Linked DNA regions of Homo sapiens: region 2 is linked to region 1. Evidence: fine-mapped expression QTL. A gene starts in region 1. The other region holds a variant in brackets. All regions are shown on one strand. Distances are from middle to middle.

Evidence for each region. PIP is the estimated chance that this variant, and not a neighbour inherited with it, causes the effect.
Region 2: its variant is the best candidate, but not a certain one, in a credible set for the expression of CSNK1A1 in whole blood (INTERVAL, PIP 0.69).

What each region holds. Positions count from the first base shown.
Region 1 is chr5:149,542,708-149,558,390 of GRCh38, forward strand. It overlaps CSNK1A1 (casein kinase 1 alpha 1), which reads right to left and starts at 8,732. Exons shown (of 10, transcript NM_001892.6): 1 at 8,135-8,732; 2 at 7,368-7,474. The coding sequence starts at 8,257. It also overlaps the pseudogene RPL29P14 and a transcript of ARHGEF37 not described here. RefSeq lists enhancers at 5,325-5,860, 6,794-7,993, 6,861-7,000, 7,021-7,240, 8,240-8,299 and 5 more.
Region 2 is chr5:149,517,511-149,533,193 of GRCh38, forward strand. It overlaps CSNK1A1 (casein kinase 1 alpha 1), which reads right to left. Exons shown (of 10, transcript NM_001892.6): 3 at 7,535-7,661; 4 at 2,780-2,878. Among named protein-coding and RNA genes, the nearest start is that of CSNK1A1, 26 kb to the right of the region's middle. RefSeq lists an enhancer at 5,962-6,131. The variant A/T (reference allele first, on the strand shown) is at 7,019.

The sequences.
Region 1 (15,683 bases):
TTTTTTGAGACAGAGGCTCGCTCTGTCACCCAGGCTGGAGTGCAGTGGCATGATCTCAGCTCACTGCAACCTCTGCCTCCCGGGCTCAAGCAATTCTCCTGACTCAGCCTCCCAAGTAGCTGGGACTACAGGCACACACCACCATGCTTGGCTAATTTTTGTATTTCAGTAGAGATGGGGTTTCACCATGTTGGCCAGCCTGGTTTCGAACTCCTGACCTCAGGTGATCCGCCCGTCTTGGCCTCCCAAAGTGCTGGGATTACAGGTGTGAACCACTGCGCCTGGCCACAAATTAATAATTTCCAGCAAGTTTTTATCCTGCAATCCACAGATTCAAAAGGGAGAATAAGAACACCCTGAATCGTAAGCATCTAATTAAATACAAATAGGTTACTTATATTTATGTAAGAGCTCTTCAGCTTGTCTATGAGGCAAAATGCCAACAAGTGAAGAAGTACAGGATGGCTCTCCAGTATCAAATGAAACGATGTGGAGTGTGTGAGAGGGCATGATTTGACCTTGACATAAGGGTGATAATGATTCTCAGAAGAACTGGAAGTTAGGACACTCCAGTAACTCCCCTGAGATTCAACAGTCTAATTTGTATTAGTAGGAATAGGGCTATATACATCTCTAACATTTTGTCCAGCTTAAAATGCTACCTAGCATTATTACATTATCTCATAAGCCAGTATAAAGCAGCTCTAGTATACCATGAATTCAGTTTCCCTTCAAGTTAAAAAGCACATTTCTCGTGATCTGTGACGTACGTTTTTCTGGTTTTTTTTTTTTAGTCCAAGCTAAGCATGGACACTGTAATATATCTTAATGAAGACATATCCAATGCAGCGTCATCTTTATTCTCTGATAACAGCCATTATGTTATTCACAGGATATATGCTCAGTGCCAAAGATAAGATTAAGCTGCTTTTAAAAGTGAAGAGTAAGGATTAACTAGTGCTTTATAAATACGTTCTAAAACATTTGACCTTCAGACACAGAGGGCAAAAATAGTGATTAAAACACACTAGGCAGCTGGGAGAGGTGGTATTCATCTGCAGTCCTAGCTACTCAGGAGGCTAAGAGGCAGGAGGATCATTTGAGTCCAGGAGTTTGAGGCTGTAGTGTGCTATTATCATACTTCTGAATAGCCACTGCACTCCGCCCGGGTGACAGAGCAAGAACCTGCCGCTAAAAATAAAAATAATAAAAGATGAAAGAAAAATAGGAAAAACAAGAAAGGAAGGCAAGTAGTAGACACAATATCAAACTGCTGGAATGCTTTTTTTCTAGCTACTATCCTTTGAAAATAGGTCTTAAAATTCCAGGACTAAAAGTCCTTAGGATCAATGAGGCCAGTGACACTTTTAAGTAGGGAACCCTTGTTCAAACAAAACCCTACCCAAAAGCTCAGTATGCAAAGGCAAATGGAAATGAGTATTTAGCTGGCAAAAGAAGGGTAGGCAGCCCTAAATCTTTCTATTCAGCACTCTCCTTCCCATTAGAACAATCCTTTTTTTATGTTCTAAATGAGGAAACAGATGGGCTTACACACATTAAGGAACTGACTGACTGTAGATGACCCAGTCAATATCACATGGCAGATCTACAGCTCAAACCTCCAAAACCTATCTAGATAAAGAATTTTTCGGTATGTCATAGTTGTTTCTTGGGTCATTGCACGGTGGCTGATGCCTATAATCCCAGCGCTTTGGGAGGCTGAGGCAGGAGAAGTACTTGAGCTCAGGAATGCAAGACCAGTCTGGGCAATATAGCAAGAGCCCATCTATATAAAAAAAATTTAAAAAAATTTTTAAATTGTTCCTTTGGAGAACTTAATTCAATTTAGAATGGAACACACAAAAAAAGGTTTTAACAGAAACTCAATACAGCTGACCCTTGAACAAAAGGGGCTTGAAATGCACAGGTCCACTTGTACACAGGTTTTTTTCTGCCTCTGCTACCCAAACAAGATCAACCCCTCTTCTTCCTCCTCAGCCCAAAGTGAGGATGATGAGGGTAAAGAGCTTTATATATATATATATATATATATATATAGTTATTGACCAATCATGTTATTGGTGAAGCTTCCAGTGAACAGTAGGCTAGTAGTAGTTAAGCTTTTGGGGAGTCAAGTTATACTTGGGGCCAGGTGCAGTGGTCCATGCCTGTAATCCCAGCACTTTGGCGGGCCGAGGTGGGTGGATCATCTGAGGTCAGGAGTTTGAGACTAGCCTGGCCATCACTGTGAAACCCCGTCTCTACTAAAAATACAAAAATTAGCTGGGTGTGGCGGCGCGCCTGTAATCCCATGAACCTGGGAGGCAGAGGTTGCAGTGAGCCAAGATCACACCATTGCACTCCAGCCTGGGTGACAGAGCAAGACTCCATCTCAAAAAAAAAAAAAAAGTTACACTTGGATTCCTGACTGTGGGGCACAGTGGGAGTGGGCTGGGGTTCAGTGCCCCTAACCCCAGCACTGTTCAAGGGTCAACTGTAATTTTAAGTGAGCTCTCACATATTAATTGACAAGGTCCAAGAATTTTCTTTCTTTTTTTTTCCCCTGCCTCAGGTTTATTTGTACTAATAGCACAGGAGGACCCCAGCCCCATAAAGACGGCAGCCCAGGGGGGTTGCATCAGTCCTTCTGTCCTCACGTTGGCAGACAGAGATACCTACTCCGAAGCCTTTGTAGGGGCCTGAGAGCCTTTGGGAGGAGCCTGAGCTGGAACTGAAGCTGGAGCTGCAGCCTGGGCCTTGGTTGATCCTTGGCCTTTGGCCCACACAGTCTGAGCCCCTTGGCAATGCGGACACAAGCACACTTCCCAAGCTTGGGGTGGACAATGTAGGCAAGTCAATCGAGTTCGCAGCTGACACCCTTTGGGATCTTGGGCTTAACCTCCTTGGGCTTTACGAGGGCCCTGCTAGCCTCAGCAAGTGCACTCATTGCCTTGGCATTGTTGGCCTGCATCTTCTTTAGGCCCTTCTTGTGCTTCTTGGCAAAGTGCATGTTCCTCAGGAACCTGGAGCCCACCATTTCTGTGCCATTTTCAGGACTGGTTGTGTGTGGTGTGGTTCGTGGACTTGGCCATGTCTGTACCTTAAGCCGCGGCTCTCCAAGTGCCTAGAACCGGAAGCTTCATTTCTTAAAATATCAAGAAAATGGATGCCATTCTCTTATCCTTGCTTTTTTTTTTTTGATACGGAGCCTCATTCTGTCGCCCAGGCTGGAGTGCAGTGGCACGATCTTGGCTCACTGCAACCTCCGCCTCCCATGTTCAAGCAATTCTCCTGCCTCAGCCTCCTGAGTAGCTGGCACTACAGGCGCACGCCACCACACCAGGCTAATTTTTTTTTTTTTTGTATTTTAGTAGAGACAGGGTTTCACCTGTCTCTACTACCCAGGCTGGTCTCCAACTCCTGGGCTCAGGCAATCTGCCCACCTCGGCCTCCCAAAGTGCTGGGATTACAGGCGTGAGCCATGGCGCCCGGCTTATCCTTGCTCTTTACTCAGGATGCTATGCTTCTTAACAATAGGTCTCTCAAATTACACAGGAAGGACCTGATTCAGCAGGTCATCTACGCAGGCCAGGTAATTTTCAGTCTCTGTTGTAAGATATACCAAAGTATCTTAAAGAAAATCCTGGCTGGGTGCGGTGGCTCATGCCTGTAATCCAAGCACTTTGAGAGGCCGAGGCGAGCAGATCACGAGGTCAAGAGATGGAGACCATCCTGGCCAAAATGGTAAAGCCCCATCTCTATTAAAAATACAAAAATTAGCTGGGCGTGGCAGCACGTGCCTGTAGTCCCAGCTACTCAGGAGGCTAAGGCAGGAGAATTGCTTGAACCCAGGAGGTGGAGGCTGCAGTGAGCCAAGACTGTACCACTGCACTCCAGCCTGGTAACAGAGTGAGACTCCATGTCAAAAAAAAAAAAAGCAAATCCTATAGGGAATTTTGTAACAGAAAACATAGGGAAGGGATTGAACAAATTTGTATATGAAGGATAAAGGCAGCAAAATCTAAATTTTTTAAATTAGTGACAATACTTCTAAAACAATAGATAACACATAACTTTTATCTAGCTAACACTAAATAGTCAACTTAATTCAATACTTTCCGAGTAAATATTTATTAAGTATGTACCATGTATAGGTGATACAGAAATAGTGGGGAACAAACTGAGGGGGATGGGAAGATGCTGCTACCCAAATAAAGAATGTTTACATAAATCTTTATCCTTTTTGCTTCAGTGGAAACAGTTTTTTTTTTACATTTCACTTTAAAACCAATGAACCACTTTTGTTTCCATGTACCTGACCCTACCACTCCTAAAGCAAATTTACCCTTTCCACACTCTCATCCAATTACTGTGTTCTCCTTTAGAGACTACACCCAGAAGCCACACTCTATTCTTGGATGCCTTACCAAACCAGTTCACCAAGCTTTCTTCCTTAGAGCCAGATCCTGAAATCCCATCTCTCAGGAAGCCTTAACTTGAAAGTCAGGTTAATCTGTTTAGCCTCACCCACAGACAGCTTATAACTACCATAACTCTCTCTGCACTCACCACCTTATAATAGGCACCTATTACTATAATTCTGCTCAGAAGTTAATTTATTCATGTGCTTATTCAGTACATTACTCATTGCCCTTATGGGTCTGTATCAGGTCTTAAATAAAAGCTACCAGATAAAAGGACATGTACTGTACTTGGGTTTAGCACTGAAAAATGACAATGCTTAATGCTTTTTGAAACTGATTTCAAATACATTAAATTTAACCTGATTTGTGAAATTTATAAAATCTCCCAACATAGATGAATCTCAAAAACATTATGTTAAGTGAAAAGTGCCAGACACAAATGACCTCATATCGTATGATTCCATTTATATGAAATTCTAGGAAAAACTATAGTAATGGAAAGCAAATCAGGGGTGAGGGGCCTTATTTTCCCACATAGTAGGTTTTTTTTTTAAAGGCAAGAATGATTTAAAAACTTCAAATCTATATCATCTCAGATTTAATCTTCACCTCATAAGATAAATTTGCAACTTTCTTCCAAATGATTTACTTGCTCATTTACAACCAATAGCACATTTTATCACTCAATTCTCCATTAAAACTGTAAATCAGCATTGGAACTTTGTTTTTTTTTTTGTTGTGTTTTTTTGTGTTTTTTTGAGATGGCGTCTCGCTCTGTCACCAGGCTGGAGTGCAGTGGCGCCATCTCAGCTTACTGCAACCTCCGACTCCCGGGTTCAAGCTATTCTCCTGCTTCAGCCTCCCGAGTAGCTGGGATTACAGGCACGTGCCACCATGCTCAGCTAATTTTTGTATTTTTAGTAGAGACGAGGTTTCACCACGTTGGCCAGGCTGGTGTTGAACTCCTGACTTAAAGTAACCTGCCTGCCTTGGCCTCCCAAAGTGCTTGGATTACAGGCGTGAGCCACCACGCCTGGCTGGAACTCTTTTTAAGGACAGTTTTATTTGAGTTGTTTCCATGTAAAGACTATGCAACCCAGTCCTTAATTCAAGACATGAAAAATACAAACTGGAATAGAAAAAGGGGCTAACAGGCTGGGCCCGGTGGCTCACGCCTATAATCCCAGCACTTTGGGAGGCTGAGGCAGGTGGATCACCTGAGGTCAGGAGGTGGAGACCAGCCTGGCCAACACGGCAAAACCTCAGCTCTACTAAAAATACAAAAATTAGCCAGGCGTAGTAGTGCAGCTCTGCAATTCCAGCTACTTGGGAGGCTGAGGCAGGAGGATCACTTGAACCTGGGAGGCGGAGGCTGCAGTTAGCCAAGGTTGCGCCACTGCACTCTAGCCTGGGCAACAGAGTAAGGCTCCGTTTCAAAAGAAAAAAAAGCCGGGCACAGTGGCTCATGCCTGTAATCCCAGCACTTTGGGAGGCCGAGGCAGGCAGATCACCTGAGGTCAGGAGTTCGAGCCCAGCCTGGCCAACGTGGTGAAACTAAAATACAAAAATTAGCTAGGCGTGGTGGCGGGCGCCTGTAATCCCAGCTACTCAGGAGGCTGAGGCACGAGAATCACTTGAACCCGGGAGGCAGAGGTTGCAGTGAGCCAAGATCGTGCCATTCATTGCACTCCAGCCTGGACCACAAGAGCGAAAACTCCGTCTTAAAGAAGAGGCTCCAGTAAACAGTAAGTACCATTCTTACCTATTCTGAATAATTTTGCAAATGTTATTTTAGATTATTGCTGGAAAATAGCTGGGCTTTAAACTATATTTTAGTCTCCATTCCATGAAGAGGATCTTTAATCCCAAAAGTTAAAACATTAAAACCCTCCAAAGTAAAGTTAACCATTTGACAGAACAATGTCTATCTCGTCATCTTTTATCCTCGTTACTGCTATTTGCACTCACCAATATTCCACACCAACAAAGGCCCCAATTTCTCTGATGTGAAGATTTACTGACAAACTCAACAGGTTAAAATTACTTATCAAAGTGTGGCTAAGTGATTAAGATTTTTTTAAATACAACTGATATGAGTAAATTTTAACATAGTTGGTGCTGCTCAAACTGCCTTTGCCACTACCTATACAAATTTAGTCCCGACTGAAACGTGCCAAATATGACCATTCACGAAAAGAAAGAGTAATTAACACTTTTAAAAGAACTACGAAGGATTTTACATAGTGTAATTCAACAATTTCGTGTCACATCTGCTGCAGAGATCACAAACACTGTCACTATGCCATCTCCTTCCTCGAACCTCCACACCGCCTCCTGCAGCTTTATTCTTGGCTTTTCAAAGGTTTAATCCACTCGGGGCTGCTAAAGGAGGAATCAAGGAAGCATAATTTGTGAACTCAAGCTGAGAAAAGGGCAGGAATATGGGGTTGAGTCACGTCGTTCCGCCATTTTCTAAGCGGAGGAGGAAGACATGTTGGAACAAAAACACAACAAAAGAGCAGCCATTTCCCAAGCCAGCTCCAATAGCAACTCGAACTGACACTGCCGGGTCGCTTCGGCACCTTCAAATCCACTTCACTGGACAAACCTAAGTACATCAGAAGTGCCGCCGTAAAAAAGGCAGCAGCCAACCCTTCCGCGTAGGGATCAAAGATGACCTGCACGCATAACTGCAAATGAAAGCCTCGGGAAGAGTGAGAATGACGGAAGCGAAATGGAGCAGTGTAATACAATGAAATAAGTTGGCAAACTGAAATTTACTCAGTAATTGAGATGACTGACTTACAGGAAACCACCAGCTATAGGGAACCCAGGTAACTAAAACACCAAGACCCGGATTCAGCTGGTCTCATTACCTGCCTCTACCCACTTCCCCATTCCGTGCTTCCCTCAGCGGATCGCCTATATGCACCGGGTTCTTACCGTATGTGGGGGATGCCAACCCCACCTTGAAGAATCTTATAGAGCTTGCTCTCGTACAGCAACTGGGGATGCCTGGCCTTCTGAGATTCTAGCTTCACTGCCACTTCCTGCAGGGGAAAGAGGGGATGATGGCATCAACATCCCTACGGATTCAATGTCACTTAGGAAAGGAGGGAGACATTAGCAAAACTCCAAGTCGCGACTACAAGAAGAAGTGAAAAGCTGGAAAGAGAAAGCTCTCGGTAATTATAAAACGAGGCAACCAGCCTCAAAGGCCTCTTCAGGGGGTAGTGACGAAATCCGTACGTCCTCTAAAGTGCAGGAAAATGATTCATCCAGAAAAAAGAGGCAACCTCTGAACGTAGTGAGAGGTTTTTAAGGAACTAGGCGATCGGAAACTGTTCTAATTGGAACAAGAGGCCCAGTAGAATTAAGAATTAAAAAAAAAAAAACATGGGAATCACTGAAAGAGGATTTTGCCGTTTCCACCTTAAAAGACGGTTAAAAAAAAAAAAAGCTCGACTAAGGGACATTTATGGGACGTGTTTAACAAGGTGGGAAACTAGTTCCCCCAACCTTTCTATCGGGTTCTTGACCCTTTTAGGGAGACAGCGGACGAGGTTCGTAAGCCAGGAAAACTAGCTCCCTGGACTCCCTGGCGAGTGCGTGCGATGAGGAGAGGCCCGAGCACTTTGGGGGTGCACGGTGGTGGTGGGGGGAATGAGTAAAAGCGCAGCGTTATCGTGAACCCCACCCCAGATGATTACCTCGCCGTTGGTGATGTTGATCGCCAAATAGATGTCCCCGAAGGAGCCAGACCCGATCTTCCGTACCAGTTTATATTTCCCTCCGACAATGAATTCAGCCTTGGAGCCGCTGCTACTCGCCATCCTGAGAGACGAAGATGGAGGCTGGGGCCAAGCCCCGACACCTCTGGGAAGAGGACGGAGGCCTCGGGGCTCCTACACTAGGCAAGGCTACGGAGGAGGGCGGCAGGAAACGGAACACGGAGGCCTTTACCGGGGTTCGGGGCCCAGAATCAGCAGAGGGGAACCTGATCACCGCCGCTCAGTCAGGTTTCTTTTTGCCAGGCCGCAGTTTGTGAAGGGCTTCTCGGCGGTTACCAGGCTGGGCCACTTGTTTCTCGGCGGCCGCCGCTGCCTCGCTTGCGCGGCGACGTCGCGGGCTGGAAAAGGGGCGCGGTGAGCTAGGGCGGCGATACCGCTGCCACCACTGCCGCCGGCTCCGGCCCAGAGGGACCCCTGTCACTCCGCGGACGACGCCATCTTGTTACTCCAGCTCCAGCCAACACAAAATGCCCCCAGTCCCCGGGAGCCGCTTCTTCACGGCGCAGAGCACTCTGGGAAAGGGATCTCGGGCGCTCGCTCCGAAGGATCGGCAGCGAGAGGGCGGAACCGGATCCGTGAGAGTCGCGGCCCACGCTCCGAGCGTCACCCTGTCACCGCCCAGCTGCGCATGAGCGCTGCAACTCCTGCTGACTGCGCAGGCGTGCCGCGGCCTGTCCTCACCCCCGTCCCGGGCTCTCTTCCACTTCCGGTCGGCGGCGGCTCAGCAGGTGTTACCTGTTACTCGCCTCGGACCCGCCGGGTCTCTGGAAGGCTGAGTGGCCCCCCGGCCTTGATATTGGGAGGAGTCACCTTCATGTTTCGTGGCAGATGAAAGCTTAAGGCCTCCTTAGGAGTTGGGTATTGACCTGTGCTCTTTGAGGCGGTTTTTAACCTTTGATCTTTCTTCTGGCCGTTCCCCCGGACCGGCCTATTCCAACCCAGTTTCTGTTTGGAAAGAGGCTGTCGCCTCTGGTGGAGAGGAAGAGAAAAGCAGCCAGCGTCGAGGAATCTCTCAGGGCTCTCGGTTGTAGCAGAGCCTAGCTAATTACCCTTCATAATTAGAATTGTCCTATCTACTACGGAGTGTTATAGACCCTCTTTCCACAGGAGGGGAAGAAAGAAAGAAGCCGGAATCCCCCTGCCATCCTATGTCTTTGCATTATTGCCTCACTACCACATATGATCTTCAGAAGAAAACCTGGTATGTTGCTCATAATGAAGATTAAGGATAGATGGAATCAACAGAAAATTAATTTAACAAGAGTGAAAAAACTGTTATGTCCCCTCAACCCCACCAAAAAAAAAAAAAAAAAAAAAAAAAAGAATCGTATGTTGGTCTTGTTGAAAACCTCAGTATTAACCTGAACAGAGTAGAGGTAACTATTACAAAATTTAATTGACAACATTTAAAACTACACGGTAATTTTTTTCTTTTTTACAAAAAATCGATCAGAGAATCAAATTTTGACCACGTTTTGTTTTACAAAATTTGACCTGGGAAAATTGGGCTTAGTAATAATAATGTTCACGAAAGAAAACTCCATGGTTGATGCTATCATCTTAAGTCAGACCTCAGTCGTAAAAATTTAAGCTAAGCCTATCCTAAATAAAATTTAATTAAAATAGAAATGGGGGGCGGGCGCAGTGGCTCACGCCTGTAATCCCAGCACTTCGGGAGGCCGGGGCGGGCAGATCACTTGAGGTCAGTTGTTCGAGACCAGCCTGGCCAACATGATGAAACCCCGTATCTACTAAAAATACAAAAATTAGCCGGGTGTGATGGCGCACACTTGTAACCCCAGCTATTCGGGAGTCTGAGAATCGCTTGAACCCGGGAGGCGGAGGTTGCGGTGAGACTAGATCACGCCACTGTACTCCAGCCTGGGCAACAGAGAGACCCTGTCTCAAAAAAAAAATAATTAATTAAATAGAAATGGGAGAAAAATGTGAAGAATTTTAACTGCAACTTTGAAAGGTGGTCAAGTAATTAGTAATAGGGTTCATCTCGGAAGACAACTGAAGAGAGAGGGGAGGAGACTTCCCCTGAAGTTTAGCATGAAGTTTTTAAAGCCCAACCAACACTCAGGGTGCCCAACTCCCAAATCAGCACTGTTAGACATCATTCTCCTTTGGTGACTCTAAAGCATGTTTTGACTAAGTTAAAATCTGCTGTTAAATTCTGATATAAAATGCAGCCGGGCATGGTGGGCTCACACCTGTAATCCCAGCACTTTGGGAGGCCGAGGCGGCTGGATCACCTGAGGTCGGGAGTTCGAGACCATTCTGGCCAACGTGGTGAAACCCTGTCTCTACTAAAAATACAAAACTTAGCTGGGCATGGTAGCATGTGCCTTGTAGCTCCAGCTACTAGGGAGGCTGAGGCAGGAGAATCGCTTGAACCTGGGAGGCAGAGGTTACAGTGAGCCGAGATCGTGCCACTGCACTCCAGCCTGGAGACAGAGCGAGACTCCACTCCATCTAAAAAATTAATTAATTAATCAATTCTGGTCTTAAAAAAAAAAAAGCCAAGTTTAAGCATCTTGAGTTTTCCAGAGATCACTCCTTTTCTGCTAATTTTCTCACACACATCCAAAGTTTAATGGATTCCTCAGCTTGAGGAGTTCTCCATAAGGGGATGAGGTATACATTTAGACGGATATTTTGGTATTGTGATAAAAATGCTCAATGAAGCCGGGGGCAGGGTAAGGGTGGGCATGAAGTGGTCTAAATTAGTGATTCCCAAAGATCTGTGTATGGACAGGTGCAAGTGGCTAACAAAGTTTGCCATGAGGATGTGAGAAAAGTAAGCAATACATCTTTCATTTATTTATCTGATTTCACATTATATTTCATTCTGAGATTTAGTCTTTTCACATATGTGTCATTAAAATGCTCTTTTATAAAAAGGTGCCGATGGTAGATGGTTTTGGTTTTTAAAATATTCTTGCTCGGTTAAAAGTTGAGCCCGGGTGCAGTGGCTCACACCTGTAATCCTAGCACTTTGGGAGGCCAAGGAAGGGCAATCACCTGAGGTCAGGAGTTCGAGACCATCCTGGCCAACATGGTGAAACCCTGTCTCTACTAAAAACACAAAAATTAGCCGGGCGTGGTGGCGCATGCCTGTAATCCCAGCTACTTGGGAGGCTGAGGCATGAGAATCGCTTGAACTGGGGAGGTAGAGATTGCAGTGAGCCGAGATTGTGCCACTGCACTCCGGCCTGGGCAAGAGAGTGAGACTTTGTCTCAAAAAAAAAGTTGAAAGCTGCGTACGGTGGCTCATGCATGTAATCCCAACACTTTGGGAGGCCAAGGCAGGAGGATCATTTGACTCCAGGAGTTCCAGGCTGCTGTGAGCTATGATCAAACCACAGCATTCCAGCCTGAGCAACAGAGTGAGACCTTGTCTCAATAAATGAATGAATGAATGAATGAATGATAGGTACTTGTATGTCTAATCCTCCTCGCCTTTTTTTTAGAACTTGTGTAAGCCCATTAAATTCTACTGGTCTAAATGACTTCTGGAAACCCTTCTAACCCTGAGATTCTATAATTTTGTATATAAGGTATGAGTCCTCCTTTGTTTCCTGCCTGCTATAGTCACCATTCCAACACTGACAGTGCCCAGCAAAATGCACAAAAATGAGATGTGAGTGGGTCTAGCCTTTTCAAATGTGATTTTAGTTTCTTAAGATTTAAATTTATTGGATTTAAGAATGGCAAAATTGTTTTTTTTTTTTTTTACATAGAAAATGAAGTCCTCAGGTGTTGGCTATGACTCAGCCTTCTTCTTAAAGTCATGTATCATTTGCAGTAATTTTAGCCTAAAAGATTGAAGAATAACCTGTTTTTGGTGTTGCTGTTAAAGTCACAAATCATTCTGTACTTATTGAATCAGCAGCAGCTTTGGTGTAATGAAAGGAGTCTTTTAGGCCAGGCACGGTGGCTCACGCCTGTAATCCCAGCACTTTGGGAGGCCAAGGCAGGCGGATCACAAGGTCAGGAGTTCGAGACCAGCTGGCCAATATGGTGAAACCCCGTCTATACTAAAAAGTACAAAAATTAGCCGGGCGTGGTGGCAGGCGCCTGTAGTCCCAGCTACTCAGGAGGCTGAGGCAGGAGAATCGCTGGAACCCGAGAGGCGGAAGTTGCAGTGAGCTGAGATCGTGCCATTGCACTCCACCCTGGGCTACAGAGTGAGACTCTGTCTCAAAAAAAAAAAAAAAAAGAAAGAAAGAAAGGAGTCTTCAAAGAGCAATTTCTGGCTTCTAGATCAGATGAATTCACTAAAAATATCAAAAGTGTAGAATAAAAATAAAAATTTTAGACCTTGAGGGAAATACAGAGATCACCTAGTTCAATAATAATAATTGTATTTTTTAATGCTTTGCAATTTACTTATGAGTCAAAGTCTCACTCTGTCACCCAGGCTGGAGTACAATGGCACCACCATAGCTCACTATAGTCTAGACCTCCTGGGCTCAAGCAATCCCCCTGCCTCAAGCTTCCCCAGTAGCTAGGACTATAGGCAGGCACCACCATGCCTGGCTAATTTTTTTTTTTTTTTTAACTTTTTGTAGAAATAGTGTCTTGCCTTGTTGCCCAGGCTGGTCTTGAACTCCTGGACTCAAGTGATCCTGACGCCTCATCCTCCCAAAACGCTAGGATGACAGGCAAGAACCACTGTACCCAGCCTGCAATTTAGAGTACTTTCACACATATCATTTGTGCCCCAGTAAGACAAAGTGGCTTGCCCAAAATCATAGAGATCTTAGTGGCAGTGACAGGACTAGAGCCACAACTACTACCAAAAGAAAGAGAAAAAGGAAAGAGTAGAACACAAATTAGGACAATCATGTCCCAGGGATTACTTCTGTGTTCGTAGGGAATTCAAGATGAATTTTAAAACTTTTTTTTTTCTTGGCTGGGTGTGATGGCTCATGCCTATAATCCCTGCACTTTGGGAGGCTGAGATAGGAGGATCGCTTGAGGCCAGGAGTTCAAGACCAGCCTGAGCAACATAGACCACATCACTACAAAAATGTTTTAAAATAATAAAAACAAAAACCATTTTTTTAAGCCACAGTGTTTACTCAAGCAACGGTCACTGGTATCCAGAATGTGCTTTGAGTGAAATGATAGAGACAAGCACAAGAAGTCTAGATGGATGCTAAAAACAGAAGGGTAGCCTGCCAATCTCTAGAATTGTTTGGTGCAAGTAAATAGAAAAATGGAATGCCTTAGAAACGTCAGTGTCCCAAGTGTTGTTTATTTTATTTATTATTTATTTTTGAGATGGAGTCTCACTCTGTCGCCCAGGCTGGAGTACAGTGGCGCGATCTCAGCTCACTGCAACCTCCGCCTCCCGGGTGCAAGTGATTCTCCTGCCTCAGCCTCTTGAGTGGCTGGGATTACAGGCACATGCCACCATGCCCAGCTAGTTTTTGTATTTATTTATTTATTTATTTATTTATTTATTTATTTTGAGATGGAGTCTCGCTCTTGTTGTCCAACCTGGAGTGCAATGGTGCAATTTTGCCTCACTGCAACCTTCGCCTCCCAGGTTCGAGCGATTCTCCTGTCTCAGCCTCCCAAGTAGCTGGGATTACAGGCATGTGCCACCACACCCAGCTAATTTTGTATTTTTAGTAGAGACGGGGTTTCACCATGTTGACCAGGCTGGTTTCAAACCTCTGATCTCAGGTGATCCACCTGCCTCGGCCTCCCAAAGTGCTGGGATTACAGGTATGAGCCACTGCACCTGGCCGTAATTTTGTATTTTTAGTAGAGATGGAGTTTCTCCGTGTTGACCAGGCTGGTCTCAAACTCCTGACCTCAGATTATCCACCTGCTTCAGCCTCCCAAAATGCTCGGATTACAGGTGTGAGTCACCAGTGTCAGGTGTTGTTTAACTCTTACACAGTCCTGTGCATAATCAGCATCAGATAAGGGAATTCATGGAGTAATTGAAAACATGAAGACATTAGAAATGTGCAGTTGGGTCAGAGTGATAATCCATTCAGCCTGTTTTTCAGTCTTGGATAGTGATGCCATTTCTGTCCCTTTCTTTAATCAGTCCCTGTTCTCCCCCTCTGCATTGTCCATGGGGTTTTGTGAAAGTGGATTGCTGCATCTATGACAGTGTTTTGCGGTGGCTAGGTCTGTGCAAAAGTACCCCAAAGTCTGAGGAAGTTGGGATGCTGAAGGAAGAAGCTGACAAATACAGTATTTAAGAAAGAAACATTTAATAGGGACTTCGAACAGAAGCCATTGAGTTCAAGGAACAGAAACCAAGATGGTGGATACCCATGCCATTACGCCCGAGACCCAGGACTTATATACCACAGGGAAAGGAATGGTTCAGATATGACCTGTAGGACAATTGAAGTGGATAACATCAAAGTTGTTTGACCTAAGAGTAGGATTTACAGTAAATATCTGCTGTTACACAAGGAACATAGATAAACTGGGAATTTTCAAGGACTTCCTGGAACTGCAGTTAAGCCAAAATGGTGGCTTAGTTTCCAAGATGGAGTTGCTTTGTTTGTTTGTTTGTTTGTTTATTTATTTATTTATTTGGGACAGGGTCTCCTTCTGTTGCCCATGCTGGAGTGCAGTAGTGTGATCATGGCTCACTGCAGCGTTAAACTCCTAGGCTCAAGCAAGCCTCTGCCTTAGCCTCCCAAGTAAATGGGACCACAGGCATGTGCCACTGCACCTGGCCTAACAGGGAGTTGCTTTAGCCTCCCATCCAGGAGGAGTTGCTTTAGCTTCCACAGTTAGCAACTTCAAACCCATTTGAGACTGCATGTATTGCTTACTTTTTATGGCCTAATTAACCATACATTTATTTCAATTAATGTTATTTTTTGAATATATTTATTCTTTTGATTCATATAGCTTCTAGATTCTAAAGATTGGTAAGTTCTATATGTTTACCCAATAATTTTTTTTTTTTTTTTTTGAGACAGAGTCTCACTCTGTCGCCCAGGCTGGAGTGCAATGGCACGATCTTGGCCCACTGCAACCTCTGTCTCCTGGGTTCAAGCAATTCTCCTGCCTCTGCCTCCCAAGTAGCTGGGATTACAGGTGCCTGCCACCACGACTGGCTAATTATCATATTTTTAGTAGAGATGGGCAGAGACGGGGTTTTGCCATGTTAGGCTGGTCTCAAACTCCTGACCTCAGGTGATCCACCTGACTTGGCCTCCCAAAGTGCTGGGATTACAAGCATGAGCCACTGTGCTCGGCCCTTTTTTCTTCTTTCTTTCTTTTTTTACGTTCTTAGAAATAGAGACAGGGACTGACCGGGCACCATGGCTTACGCCATGCAATCCCAGCACTTTGGGAGGCTGAGGCGGGCGGATCACGAGGTCAGGAGTTCGAGACCAGCCTGACCAACATGGTGAAATCCTGTCTCTACTAAAAATACAAAAATTAGCTGGGCGTGGTGGCTTGCGCCTATAATCCC
Region 2 (15,683 bases), 25 kb before region 1:
ACCAACATCATTTCCTCATATGTATGTTAGAGAGCTAAACATAATATCCTATTTTCATTTAGCTTTTTTCTAAACTTTATAAGTTTTAAGCAAAAGCCACAAAGAAATATCTTAGTAATGTTATGTTTGCCAAGTATGTCTGAATAATGCCAACGTAAGAGGTGCTTGAGCAAGATCTACATTCTCCAGAATTAAAACAAAACAAAAATCATCAAAATAAAACAATAAAAAAGAAAAGCACATGAATTTGGGATTGAGGTTGGAATAGGAGACAGTTTCAGACCTGGTTTAATCCTGAGAAAGATGGGTCCTGAGAAGTACTAACAGTCATGCTTCTTTTCCTCTTCCCCACTGGAGATTCTAAACACTAAACAGACAATAGAGGGTGGCAGTGCATCAAACAGTATTGCTTACATTGCAACAATGGCCGGCGCAGACAGGCAACACCGAGGCATTAGAGAAAGAACAGGGTAGCCAAATGCCATCCTTCTTCCACCAAGCACTGTAGCTTCTCAGTTTTCCAAATAAGAATCACATGCTCAAGAACATTTGAATTCTGGAAATTACTCAGGTTTTTAATGCCACTATTTTGTGTCACTGCCTGAAACAGGGATAGCAATGGTGACATTTGGCTCTTTTATATTTTTAATCAAAAATGGGGAATTTAGATCTGCAATCTTTGGTACCACAATCTGCCCTTCCCCCCCAAAAAAATATTGTACGGGGGAAAAAAATCTTCAGTAAGGAAGAGGTAGAAGGCATTTAGTCACCTTAAAATTTATTTTCGTAAGCATGCAGGGCTGATTACTGGAAGAGATGAGCAAATTCACTAAGATTGGAGTGGCCACTCCTAAATATCAAATTCAGAACAATTTTCCAAATAAGAAATTTAACTTTAAAAATTGTCCTCAAAAGCCCCCCAAAACCTTTTTTTCCCCATGAATAGAAAACTACTGGAACAAGCTGACCAAAGAATCCAGTCTCATACAACTGGCATTTTTCAAACTACAATACAGAAAACACTAAAAATCAACTACATAAACAAAACACTAATCTAAAATGTTCAAGAGCAACATTTAGCATTTGAATCTTAGTTGAGTAAAACACTTTGCTTCTTCCCCATGGCCTCTCTAAAACAGTGTTAAGCAGCAAGCAGCTCCACAAAATTATTTTTAATATCTCAAGGAGAAAAGGAGACCTAAACCTCCTAAAAAGGTTTTCACCACTAGATAACTTACACTTCCTTAAGACAACTATGCGATTAACAAGCTATTCTTAAGGGGGTTGTGGGGGAGGGGGGGAAGGCAAAGTGATATCTAGGTCATCATTTAAATTTAAGGCAAAAACCACGTACTGCAATGTCAACGATGCAGAATAGGAATCACATGGTGATAATGGGTTTTTAGGGGGTAAGAAAACAGGAAGGAGAGGGCTGGGAAATGGCCAAGAAGATTGGAGTCAAATGGACAAAACTGCCCCAAAACTTAAGAACAGTAATTTTTTTTTCAATTGAATTACCAGGCTTTACAGTAATAAAAACCTGGATACTTCAGAGAAAAGCTATAAAATATTTTTTAATGCAACTTGGGAATGACAAGATAAGTTATGTGTATATTTAAACACCTTTCATTATTTAAAGCTCAACAAAAAAATTTAATTTCCTAAAACCTAATCAGACCAACATCAGTATCTCACATTGACAAATAACACCAATTCTAATGGTAATGTCTCCCAGTTGGCATTCATACAGGCAAACAAAGGTAAACATTTATAGCTAGACCTAAAAACACCAAACATTTCCTAATAGTTTAGTAAAACAAATGGGCATCTTCCTTCCAAAAACAAAACAAAAAAGCCACAAAAAAACAAAAAAAGCCCCCAAGTTGTCCTGAAGTTGAGAATTTCTATCAGATAGATCATCAGATCACAACATGCTTAGTGCATTGCCAATGCTGCCTGTCTGCCCGAGCTCAACATAGTATCGATAAAGAAAGCAATTCACTCAGTAAGACTAATCATTACAGAAAAAAAGTCAACACAATTAGTTTCTAACTGCAATCATGCGCCACTAGCTAAAACCCAATCACCCCATAAGTTGAACCACTCTCAGAGACCCCAAATGAACACTAGTTTTGTTGTATGAATGTTCATTTCACTTGTCTACATTTTCCTTTAAAGGGAGAGGGAGGGGTGGAGAACTCACCCAATTTGGCACCCAAGTAAAAAACTGTCAACTACTTTTGAAGCAGGCCCAAAAGTTACCCTTTTAAATACACAAATTCAAGGACTGAAGAATTCTCATTATCAACCATGCTCAGTCAGCAAATGTTAACACCATGGTGACAGATAAGTCAGTGTTCCCACACTGGCACAAGCACATATATTATAAAAACCCACACTTCAGAGCCAAAGGTTAAAATCTGGTTTTAAGCATTCAGGAAGAAAAGAATATGGGGGTTTTTGCTATTTTTGTGAATGAAAAATAGATACAACTGTTCAACAGTTAAATAACTTAGACAACTACAGTTCATTATACAGCCCTTAGAATTTTATATTTCCATATAGGTAACTAACCTCGGTTGGGTAAGTTGAAGATAATTTATTTCAAGTTACTAAGTTAATGGAGTTAGCTGATTATCCTCATAGCACAATCTTTTAAAGCAACTGTCAACAGCAAATTCAACTTACTATGGCTTTTTAAAAGATTGAAAAGTTTACCAAAGCAATTCTTGTCGAAACTTTACTCTTTGTTCTTTCATGCAAAGAGCATTTGACTAACCTTATTACAGTGACGCCCAATACCCATTAGGAAGTTATCTGGTTTAATGTCTCTGTGTATAAAATTCTTTGTATGCACATATTCAATTCTACTGATCATCTGGAAAAAAAAGAAGGGAGAGATAATTGAGTTAAGTAGTAAATGAAAATCAACACATTTCTTAAGTATTTCAGTATCTCAATTATTTAGAGTTCACAAAGACAGCGCTAAAGAAAATGAAATGGAAAGGACAACTAAGTTCTCCATTTATTTCTAGGTTAATGGATATCTAAGCATATACCTGCTGTGTCCTTTGGCTTTACCTTCTAGTATTAATAATTAAAACCATGGCAGGGTCTAACCCCATAGGAAGACTTGGTGTTTGTGATTTTCAAATAATAAAAGGAATACCTGTATAATAGTTTCAGTTGCTACAATAAAGGAAATAAAATAAAAACTTTCCACACTCAATCCTAGGCCTTCTAAAGTAACCTGTTAAAATGGCCTTGTATTACCCAGACCTAATTCCATGTTATAAGATATACATATGCACACAAACAGATACACATATACTTGGGAGTGGAGGATGTTGACAGATTGGCAGATTAAGCTATAAGTAGTTGTTATAATTCTTATATAATCTCATTCCAAAAGTTAAATATTAAACATGCCATTCTTAAAAGCTTTCCTTAATTTCTTGGAAATTATGCAAAGTCAAACGCTATAGCTCAAATATCCTTTTTAATGGCTACAAATATTCTGTGGTAGAGATGTTATGTCTTCCCCAACTCACAGTATTCTCACATTGTTTTCCACTTTTTCCTACTATAAATAATGCCATTAATAGACATGTATCTTTACCCACTAGTGCTTTTATTTCTATGGGCTTCAAATCCCATATAATTATGGGGAGTTGCTGAGTTGAAGGGTGTATTTTTCATTTTGATAGATAATATCACACTGCCTTCCACAATAGGCTGTAACAATTTGGATTTACTCTTCTTTTTTTTTTTTTTTTTTTGAGACAGGGTCTCACTGTCACCTAGGCTGAAGTGCAGTGAAGCAACCATAACTCACTGCTGCCTCAACCTTCCAGGCTCCAGTGATCCTCACACTTCACCCTCTGGAGTAGCTGAAACTATAAGGTGCATGCCACTACACCTGGCTAATTTTTTTGTGTCAGCTAATTTTTAATTTTTGGTAGAGACGGGATATCGTTATGTTGCCCAGCTGCTCTTGAACTCCTGGGTTCAGGAGATCCTCCTGCCTCGACCTCCCAATGTGGTAGGATTACAGGTGTGAACCACCATGCCCGGCCTCGATTTAGAAGTAATCCTTCCATGAGGATTTTTTTTTTTTTTTGAGACAGAGTCTCACTCACTCTGCTGCCCAGGCTGGAGTGCAGTGGTGCAATTTTGGCTCACTGCAACCTCTGCCTCCTGGGTTCAAGCGATTCTCTTGCCTCAGCCTCCCGAGTAGTTGGGATTACAGGCACCCGCCACATGCCTGGGTACTTTTTTTTATTTTTAGTAGAGACAGGGTTTCACCATGTTGGTTTCCAGCTCCTGGCCTAAAATGATCCACCTGCCTCGGCCTCCCAAAGAGCTGGGATTACAGGCGTGAGCCACTGCGCCTGGCCCTTCTATGAGGATTTACTCTTCTATGTACTGTCAAGCTCCACTCTTTGCCTATTTTTCTTTCGGCCTATTGTCTTCTTGTTAGCTTTTAGGAGTTCTCGTCATAAAACAAACAATCTTTTATCTGTCATTATGTAAACAAATTTAAATTATTTTTTATTTTGACTGCTTATGGCATTTCTTGTATACAATAGAAGTTCTGTGTTTTTTTGTTTTTTTTGAGACAGAGTCTCACTTTGTCACCCTGGCTGGGGTGCAGTGACGAGATCACGGCTCACAGCAGCTTCAACTTCCGGGGCTCAAGTGATCCTCTCAGCTCAGCCCCCTGAGAAGCTGGAACTACGGACATGCGCGTTACCATGCCCAGCTAATTTTTGTATTTTTTGTGGAAAGGGGGGTATCGTTATGTTGCCCAGGCTGCTCTCGAACTCCTGAGCTCAAGTGATCCTCCTGCTTCTGCCTCCCAAAGTGCTGGGATTGCTGGCATGAGCCATCACACCCAGCCTCTATCTTTTCTATAAGACACTTACTTAGAAGTTGTATTTTTAAATAGATTACATATCCAAAGACTGCCAACATTATCTTTCTGTCCATATGTTCTTGCTCTACCCAGTAGTATCTGTTAGGATTCTATTTTTTATTTGTCCCCATTTTCCCCAGAGCTTTTATTATCATGAATACACAGATTCTAAATTGTACTCTTCTACCTTGACAAATGTCTTCTGAAGCCAAACTAGTAATCTCTGGCTTGAACAACTTACACCTGTTACCTGTCAACCACAGAGCAAGACTTAGGTGTCAACTACCTTAAATGAAAGCTTTCTTGTATCTCCCTTCCTCAGAATTATATTTTTTCACATTTGTTACCCGTGTACCCAACAGAGACTTCTACAACTCTACAACAAGGATGGAACATCTTATTTTTCCATCTTTCTTTATTAGACTCTAAGTTTCTTTCTAGAGGGAAGAGACTAATTCTTATTTTTTTGCCACCCCAACCCCCAGCACTAAGTACAGTGGTAGGCTCTCAATACATGTTCAATGTATGGATGCTTACGTGTTACTGAACAAACAAAAACATAAGCCATAACTCTTTTATTAGGATTCACTCATATATGTTAGTTAAAACATATTAAAGGCTTTTTTTTTTTTTGAGACAGAGTCTCGTTCTATCCCCCAGGCTGGAGTGCAGTGGTGCGATCTCGGCTCACTGCAATCTCCACCTCCTGGGTTCATGTGATTCTCATGCCTCAGCCTCCCGGGTAGCTGGGATTACAGGTGTCAGCCACCACGCCTGGCTAATTTTTGTACTTTTAGTAGAGATGGGTTTCACTATGTTGGCCAGGCTGGTCTCGAACTCCTGACCTCAGGTGATTTACCGGCCTTGGCCTCTCAAAAGTGCTGGGACTGTAGGCATGAGCCACCAAACCCAGCCCACATTAAAGGCTGTTAACATAAAAGAGATGGGGTCTTTGCTCTATTGCTCAGGCTGGAGTGCAGTGGCATTATTATAGCTCACTGTAGCCTGGAACTCCTGGGCTCAAGAGATCCTCGTGTCTTGGTCTCCCAAAGTGCTGGATTACAGGCGTGAGCCAGTGTGCCGCGCCACTTTTAACCTTTTAATGCTTGAGTTTGTTTTGTGCCACAAATATCACAATTTGCTCACATTTGCTTGAGCCACTGAGTACTTTTAAGGTTAAGAAGCTTGGGGAGTATCAGGTGCTGATTACAGAAAATGGGCACTACTTTCTAATCCTTGGAATTATAGACAAAGTTTTTTCATTGATCTATAATAGTTGTATATATTTATGGGGTATGTGTGATATTTTGTTACATGTATACAATGTGTAATTATCAAATCAGGGTAGTTGGGATATCCATTACTTCAAACATTTATATTTTGTGTTAGGAACATTACAATTCTACTCTTCTAGCTATTTTGAAATAAACGATAAGCTATTGTTAACTATAATTTCCCTACTATACTATGTAATACTAGAACTTATTCCTCCTAACTGTATTTTTGTGCCCATTAACCTACTTCTCTTCATCCCTCTGAATTTACAAACTTACTAAAATTCCACCTCAAATACCATGTCTGTTTATCTCATTTTACTTTATGACATTTACTTGAAAGAAGCTCACAGTGATGCTTTGGGTAATACATAAATAATAGTATTAAAAGGTAAGTGATAAAGTAAATAAAGGTAAGTGATAAAACAAATAACCTGTGTTCTCCTTTCCCTTTTCCTCATTTTATTTTCTTCTGTTATTTTCCCTCTTCCTTTTTATGTGATAGGCAAATCTGGACTAGAGAGCTGTCACAAACCCTCCATTATATTTTTAAATGTCATTCTCTTCATAGTATTTTTATAAGCACACTGAGTTTAACTTAAAGCATTTCCAGCATTTTCCTGCCCTTAAAGGTAACAAATACTGATCAAAACAAAAAATTATACATGTCTTGATATTTACCAATCATTACCTTAATGTATTATCTTTTCCCTTAAGGTTTGTTCCTTACTCATCTTTCTCATTTCTTAAGATCGAAATATCCAAACTTTGGCTGTAAAAACCATTTAATCTAACCTACAGCCAATGCATCAATCTAATTCATGACATC[A/T]CCAAAATTTCCTAGGTCTTAAGTAACACAAATGGTTGAGAATCCATTACTCCAAGCAGCATCTACTTGGTCAAAAAATTCTTCCTTATATTACTTCAGGACCTTTTTATCCTCAAAAATATAGCTTTTCTAAGAGTCCCACACATAATACATAATATTCAATTTTGCTTAATTTAACCAAAATGTCAATAAACATTTATCAACAATTATATGCATACATACACTCTAAACTCTCCAAACAAAATCTTACAATAACCTGCTACATATGACACTAAAACTTCATCTGAAGGAGCAGATTGAAAACTACTAGTCTACAGATGAGTAAGAAACCAAGATAATTCCAGGTTTTGTCTTATTCCCATAGGAAAATATCTACAAGTCACATTATTATTTTTTTTCTGCCTATGCTAAGGTTAAATAGTGATGCACAGGATTTTAATACTCTGATTTATGAATAATGAAATTCCAGTCAACAGTACTAGTCTCAGTTTATATTCTAATCAAAATTTCACATACCTGGTCAGCTAACATAAGTACAGTTTTCATTGTGAACCTTCTTGAACAGAAATTGAAGAGGTCTTCGAGGCTAGGTCCCAGAAGATCCATGACTAGTACATTGTAGTCTTTTTCCTGACCATACCACCTAACGAAACAAAAGGAGAAGAGAGGATATTACAAAAAGCTATTACTTAATATCATCAACCCTAAGAATAATATAGTTTTCTTTCACTGACTAGGTATTATATAAGGCGAATGTTCCCCTACTCAGAAGACAAACCCACTAATTAACTACAAGGCCCAAAGACAAAACAAGGGTAATGAGACTTTTTTTTTTCCCTGTCATGCAACTCCATTCTCCTATATAGATAGGACATGCATAGTAGCCTTAACACTCCTGTTACCAGGGCAGCTGAATTTTATACCCACTGGCCACTGATTCCTATGGCCTTTACCAAATTCCTTAATCTCACCTGAATTTACTTTGTAACTGAAGAAATGAAGATGACTCTATCAGTCATTCCAAAATGTTTCAGAAAGCAAAGATTTCTTTTATCTGAACTTCGATTCCAGTTCCTACCAAATTGCATTTAATCAATAATTACTTGTCCTTATTCAAAAAGGAGTCACATTTTTCCTTGGCTTCAGATCACAGAAAATAACCCATATAACACAAGGTAATGACATTTATTTGCTTTTAACTGGAATCATGTTTTAATTATCCTGGGCTGTATTACTGTATACAATGTGTCCCTAATAAGAAGTATCAACTGCCAATTTCATTTATCCCAAGGACTGAAAATCACTGCAATAAATTATTTCAAATTTTGATGCCTATGATTCTGGTAAGAGTACTTTCCTTAAAATAAGCACTACCACTTTTCTTTCAAACTTTTCTAGATATTAAATTCTGCTAAGAAAATCAGGTGATACTTAAAATTTTGTTTAAAAAGTTATTTTAAAGCTTAAACTGCAGTCATTTCTTTGTTAACTCCAATAAGAACCAATCCCAAAATTTACCATATCTGGAAAGCTTATGTTTTAAAAATATTCAAAAGGGGAGAACAGGCTTTTCTTCCTTTCCCTTCCTTCCTCCTTATTTATCTATTTATTTATTTATTCATTTATTTTTAGACAAGGTCTCGCTCTGTTGCCAGGCTGGGGTGCAGTGGCAAATCACAACTCCTGCAGCCTTTGACCTTCTGGTCTCAAGCAATCCTCCTATTTCAGCTTCCCAAGTAGCTGGGACCACAGGCGTGCCATCATGCCCAGCTAAATTTTAAAAAAGTTTTTGGTAGAGACATGGTCTTTCAAATTTCTTGTAAAGGCAGAGTCTCCCTACGTTGCCCAGGCTAGTCTCTAACTTCTGGACTCAAGCGATCCTCCTGCCTCAGCCTCCCAAAGCACTGGGATTACAAGTTGAACCACTGTACCTCACCAGCTTTTTAAGAAAACTAAAATCTGTGTCAAAATTATAACAAGTATCAGTCAAGTAGGAAACTGTTTAGTGCCATTTCCTGCTTTGCTGATAAATGCCAATGATTCAAGAAAATCAATATTAAAACTAGAGTATGAGGATTTAATCTTTTAAGAATATTTTTCTAGAAAATGCAAAGATAACTATACAGATGTGCTACTCTTGTGGCTCTTCTTTAAGAAAAGAGTCTATTCTAACTAGTGGTCCTGGGCACCCATTAACCCTTGATGGCATCTACCAAAACTGCAGAAATTTCAGGCATAGCACCTGAGAAAGGGGGGGGAGCCTCAAATCAGTCAGCTTTAATTTCAGATCTATTCAGATAGGTCTCATAGTCAGGTATAATAAATATGCTCCCTAGAATCTTATGTTGAGAGTAAGAGATCCTAAGAGGATTATAAGCCAAAAAGTTCAGTTCCTTCCTACGACTTTTGCTTCAGTTGTTCTTGAGAACTACTTCCCAAACCTGACACATGGATAACTGCCAAGCACACAAAATCAAATCCATTTCCACATCCTCTTTGCAGAAAAAGATAACCCAGTAAGGGAAAAGTTCTGCTTAACTTTCTAGAGGTCTTGCCCACTAGGCTAGGAAACAAATGTGTCAACGTGACAGCAAAAGAGCCATTTTTTTTTTTTTGAGACACAGTCTCTTGCTCTGTCCGACAGGCTCGAGTGCAGTGGTGCGATCTTGGCTCACTGCAACCTCTGCCTCCCAGGTTCAAGTGCTTCTCATGCCTCAGCCTCCCAAGTAGCTGGGATTATAGGCGCCTGCCACCACGCCCAGCTAATTTTTGTATTTTTAGTAGTGACGGCGTTTCACAATGTTGGCCAGGCTGGTCTCGAATTCCTGACCTCAGCTGATCCACCTCTTGGCCTCCCAAAGTCCTGGGATTACAGGTTTGAGCCACCACACCCGGCCAGAAGAGCCAGTTTTGTCCTTATTGCTTAAAACAGCATACTAAAGCTGCTGTTATTTTCCCTCTTCCACTCTTTATTCTCCCTATGGGAATTCAACACCTTTCACATTCGCTGAAACATTTACTTGAAAGAAGCTCACAGTGATGCTTTGGGTAATACATAAATAACAGTATTAAAAGGTAAGTGATAAAGCAAATAAGCTGGGTTCTCCTTTCCCTTTTCCTCATTTTATTTTCTTTTGTTATTTTCCCTCTTCCTTTTTATGTGATAGGCAAATCTGGACTAGAGATCTGTCACGAACCTACCATTACAAACGTTCAACACTTGTTTAATATAAATATAATTTACCTAGGCTTTTAAGAAAACGAGAACACCAAATCCAGAAAGAGCTAAGGAAGTAAGAAGGCGCAAAAAGTCAAATAGGCAAAAGGGAAGGCATAAATCAACTCTTATTTATAAGACCAAGTCTCAGCTCTAGACAGGTTTCCACTGATGGCTCAGATGTAAAACTACAAAAAACAAGCAAATGTTATAACCATCCATCTAAGCCCAAACACAAACCTGAAATGTAAAAGGCACAAATTCAGACTTTATATTTTCATGCAATTAACATGATTTCATAAAGAAATCATCTGCAAAGTAAGCCTCTAACAAAATCACCTGCATGTAAGCCTCTAACTCCCTTAATAGTTAGAAACTGGGAAGAATTAGATGAATTGAGAAGCACACTTAAAACACACACACATTATTGGGCATTCTTCATCCTTGCTTAAATTTATGAACACAAGACATATTCACTATTCTCAAAGTCAGGAGGATTAAATACTTCCTTGAAAATAGCTAAAAAAAAATAAGCGTCTCAAAGGCATTTTACCTTGTGGAGCAACCATGCAGTTCTAAAACAGCTAGGACTTTCTTTTCTATGGACTGGTACTATAACTCCTTAAACCTAAGAGACAGGAGTTTACATCTTTCACACTTCCTTTGGTCTCAAGGAATATATAGCTTAATTCTCTAAAGCTAGAACGTCACACCCTCCATCTGTGCTCTTCCATCTGGACTAACTCATTCAGACATTATCACACACAGATTCAGAACCAGAAATGGTCTTCTGCTTATTCCAATCTTACTTATTCTTAGTTTCTACCTTCACCTCCATGCTTCCCACGTCTATTCTGAGAGCTTTTCTCTACCTTCAATCCCAACCTTAAAACCCAGATGCCAAAGAAATCTTCCTAATGTCACCTATCCCACATTGGTCTCCTATTTCCTAGAATTCCCAAAGCCATTAACTATTGCTTGTGTCCACAGTCTTAACCCCTTGACAATACTCATCTACTGTAACTTTGGTGTTTGTCTCTATACCTGGTAGGATAGAGCTTACAGCTTTATTTTTATTTGAATAGCCTTTTCACAGAACCTGAGTCATGAACAAGCACTAACCCGATTCTCTGAGGCCATTTAAGTTTATAGTCTGAAACACCAACACAAAAACCTCACTCATTTACTTTCTAGGCCTTCAAACTAGAAACACAGGTCTTACCTTTAGACATTTTTAAGTACAAGACGTGTTGCTACTAAGTGTACAGTGGTAAAGTGATGTGCATATTGCAGGTACTCAGGTAATTATGAGACTAAAAAAAGTATTCCAGTTGATTTGGACCTTATTCTTCCTAAGTTACGAAACATTAAAAAAAATCAAGTAATTTAATGGGTGAAAGTGAAAATAATAATTTTAAAAAGATAAAATGTTCGGGGATCTCATTTTCCATTTGTTTCAAATCTATACCTTTAGACTTCAGTGTTACCTAAAACTAGGCTGAAGAATGAGTTCATAATTTACACAACCATTATTACTTACTTACAGCATAAAAAAAGTATCTAAGGTCTGAAGATAATGCCAAGAGAAGGCAAGGTCTATCTCTCTGCTCTTATGTCCTTTCCTCTAAACGCATATCCAAATTAAATCCAATTTAAAAATTAAGACATACACAAAAAGCACAAATGTAAGACAATACATGCAAAAGTCAATGAGGCTGACAAAAAATGCTAACATGATTCACACAAAAGATCAATGAGAACTAAATCTGTCTAAAGAGGTATTAGGAAAATAGTCTGCTACCAGTCAGATCCTGAAGGATGAACAGTGTTTTGATAAGTAAGGCAGAAAAGGGCTTACCAGGCAGGGGCAAACCATTTTGGGGCATGGGCTGTCATAAAGGGAAGAGTCAAGGTGGCAGATAGATTGAAGCTGCAGTATAGGTTCTTCAGTGCAAGGCTTATGAGCTTTACATGCTGTAAATAATTGGGTGAACTATTACTACAGTTTGTGGCTGAGACATAATTAAAATCAGTAATTATTAGCCTTGGCATCAGTATACAATATGGAAATGGAGGACCAGGGGAAGGAATGACAATGACATGGTTACCAATTAGGAAGTGTTATACTATAGCCGGAGATTTCAAGCTAGGGGTTTGCTTTTTTCTGAAAAATGTCTTCATGAAAATGGGAGTATTTGAGAAAAAAAATACATATTTTTCATATAAAAATATTTAAGTATTACTATGAGACCCAGAATATTCCAGAATAAATCAGTGTAATTATTGTAATATGCACTTTACCCAAATATATGTTAGTTCCATCACCATGACCAGGACAAAATAACAGTAAAAAAAAAAATTTAATGTAGATCTTCCCCTTCAGACTATTAACTTAATTAGGGGCAATCATTATATTTGTCTTGTTCACAATCTGTATTCCCAGCATACACAAGAGATGCTCAAAACATTTGCTGAGTAAAATAATGAAAACTCATATTAGAAGCTGTAACAGTGTAGGGAGTGCTTGATTTGGCAGATAAGGAAAACAAAACAAGAAATGCAAAAACACTCCCTGCACTCCAAGTGAAGACATCAGGAAGCATCTATTTATCCCTAGTTCAAATAAGCCAAATAATTATAAAAGTTAAAAAGTCGTTTGCCAATCTTTCGGTTATTAATGTCAGAGTCTTCAGTGAACAACTAAAAAGTATCAACACTGAATCAGTGCTATAATATATCCAATTTTAATAGCACCTACAAGATATCCTGAAGATACTGTCTCTCAAACTTAGTCTCTTGCCAGCCCATCATTATCCAACCTTTATGCTCCTTTTTAATGGGAGCAGAAAAGGAATTTGGCCTAGCAAGATCTTGCTGAACCGTAAGAACTAACTCAAATTGTCTCTTTAGGATACTACTGCTAACAGTTCCAGCTACTCAGGCCAGGCGCGGTGGCTCACGCCTGTAATCCCAGCACTCTGGGAAGCCGAGGCGGGCGGATCATGAGGCCAGGAGTTCGAGACCAGTCTGACCAATATGGTGAAACCCCGTCTCTACTAAAAATACAAAAATTAGCTGGGCATGGTGGTGGGCGCCTATAGTCCCACCTACTCAGGAGGCTGAGACAGGAGAATTGCTTGAACCCAGGCAGCAGAGGTTGCCATGAGCTGAGATCTCGCCATTGCACTCCAGCCTGGATGACAAAGCGAGACTCTGTCTCAAAAAAAAAAAAAGAACACATAAACAAAAAAAAAAAGTTTCAGCTACTCTGTTCCCTTTTCTCTAAAATCCTTTCAATTTTCCTATACATTCATATTTGTATATGCCATTCTTAACAGCTATTTGCCATTCATTATACACAGATGTATTCTCAAAACCAGATACCTCTTCTCCCCATACATCTCTTCTCAGAATGTTTTAAATGCATAAAATACAAGGCATTATAAAGAAAATCAATTATAGCGAAATTGAACTAGCATAAAATTACTTCTAAACAATCAATTTTGGGGCCAGGCACAGTGGCTCATGCCTGTAATCCCAGCACTTTGGGAGGCCAAGGAGGGCGGATCACCTGAGGTCGGCAATTCGAGACCAGCCTAACCAACATGGAGAAATCCCATCTCTAATAAAAATACAAAATTAACATGCCTGTAATCCAGCTACTTGGAAGGCTGAGGCAGGAAAATTGCTTGAACCCGGGAGGCCGAGGTTGCAGTGAGCCGAGATCACGCTATTGCACTCCTGCCTGGGCAACAAGAACAAAACTCTGTCTCAAAAAAAAAAGAAAGAAAGAAAAGAAAAAGAAAAAAAATCAATTTTGAGCCAGGTGCAGTGGCTCAAGCCTGTAATCCCAGCACTTTGGGAGGCTGAGGTGGGTGGATCGCTGGAGGTCAGGAGTTCGAGACCAGCCTAGCCAACATGGCAAAACCCTGTCTCTACTAAAAATACAAAAAAAAAAAAAACAAAAAACAAAAAATTAGCCGCACATGGTGGTGGGGACCTGTAATCCCAGCTACTCAGGAGGCAGACGCTGCAGTGGGCCGAGCTTATGCCACTGCACTCAAGCCTGGGTGACAGCAAGACTCCATCTCAAAAAAAAAAAAAAGGAATTTGGGATATAGTAATATACATACTCTCCTTATTATTATTATTTTTTGAGACAGGATCTCACTGTGTCGCCCAGGCTGGAGTGCAATGGTGTGATCTTGGTTCACTACAGTCTCTGCCTCCCAGGTTCAAGAGATTCTCATGCCTCATCCACCTGTTGGGATTACAGGCATATGCGACCACTCCTGGCTGATTTTTGTATTTTTAGTAGAGACAGGGTTTCACCATGTTGGCCAGGCTGATTTTGAACTCCTGGCCTCACGTGATCCGCCTGCCTTGGCCTCCTAAAATGTTGGGATTACTGGTGTGAGCCACAGTGCCCAGCCCTACACTCTGCTTATTAATGCATTAAATATAGGAGCAGGTCTAATAAATGCTATAATTTTGATGTAGTAATGAGTGTAAACTATATTTTAAGATACCTGCAACAATAATGTGATATAAAATACCTGTGATTTCAGCCGGGCGGAGTGGCTCATGCTGAGATCATACTGTTGCACTCCAGCCTGGGCCACAGAGTGAGACTTAGTCTAAAAAAAAAAAAAATCTGCGATTTCTAGCTGGGTGCAGTGGCTCACACCTGCAATTCTAGCACTTTGGGAGGTCGAGGCAGATGGATCACCTGAGGTCAGGAGTTTGAGACCACTCTGGCCAACATGGTGAAACCCCATCTCTACTAAATATGCAAATATCAGCCGGGCGTGGCGTTGGGCGCCTGTAATCCCAGCTACTCAGGAGGCTAAGGAGAATCACTTGAACCTGGGAGGCAGGAGATGCAGTGAGCCAAGATCACGCCATTGCACTCCAGCCTGGCGGTAAGAGCAAAACTCCATCTACCCCCCACAAAAATCAGTGATTTCTATTGGTGACAAAGTCAAAGGTTCTGCTAAAACTCATGAGGTTTCCTACTTACACTTAAAATCAAAAAGAAATACTAGATTTGAGTGAGAAGCTCATGAAAATAAAAATGTAATTTTCCTTACCTGTCTAAATACATAGATCTCATGGGGGGTGGATATGGTTATGAACCAGGTTAAGAGCCCCTGTTCCAAACCAACTTTTGAGATAAATAGCCTGTAGAATAAGATCTAATATTTGAAAATCATGTATGTTTTGCTCAGCAATAACGTAGTCAACTAAGATGATTTGTTTTCCCTCTTCTTGCTGCCTTGTTACTACTAATCCTTTGCTTACAACATTACCCCCAAGATCCTTGAATTACCGTACATTTTCATATTCTCCACCTTTGTTCCTTGCCCTTTGCCTTCAAAGATATGTAGATGTTCCTTAACTCCAAAAATTATAAAAACAAACAAAAAAAACTTTACCACTGTTCATTAT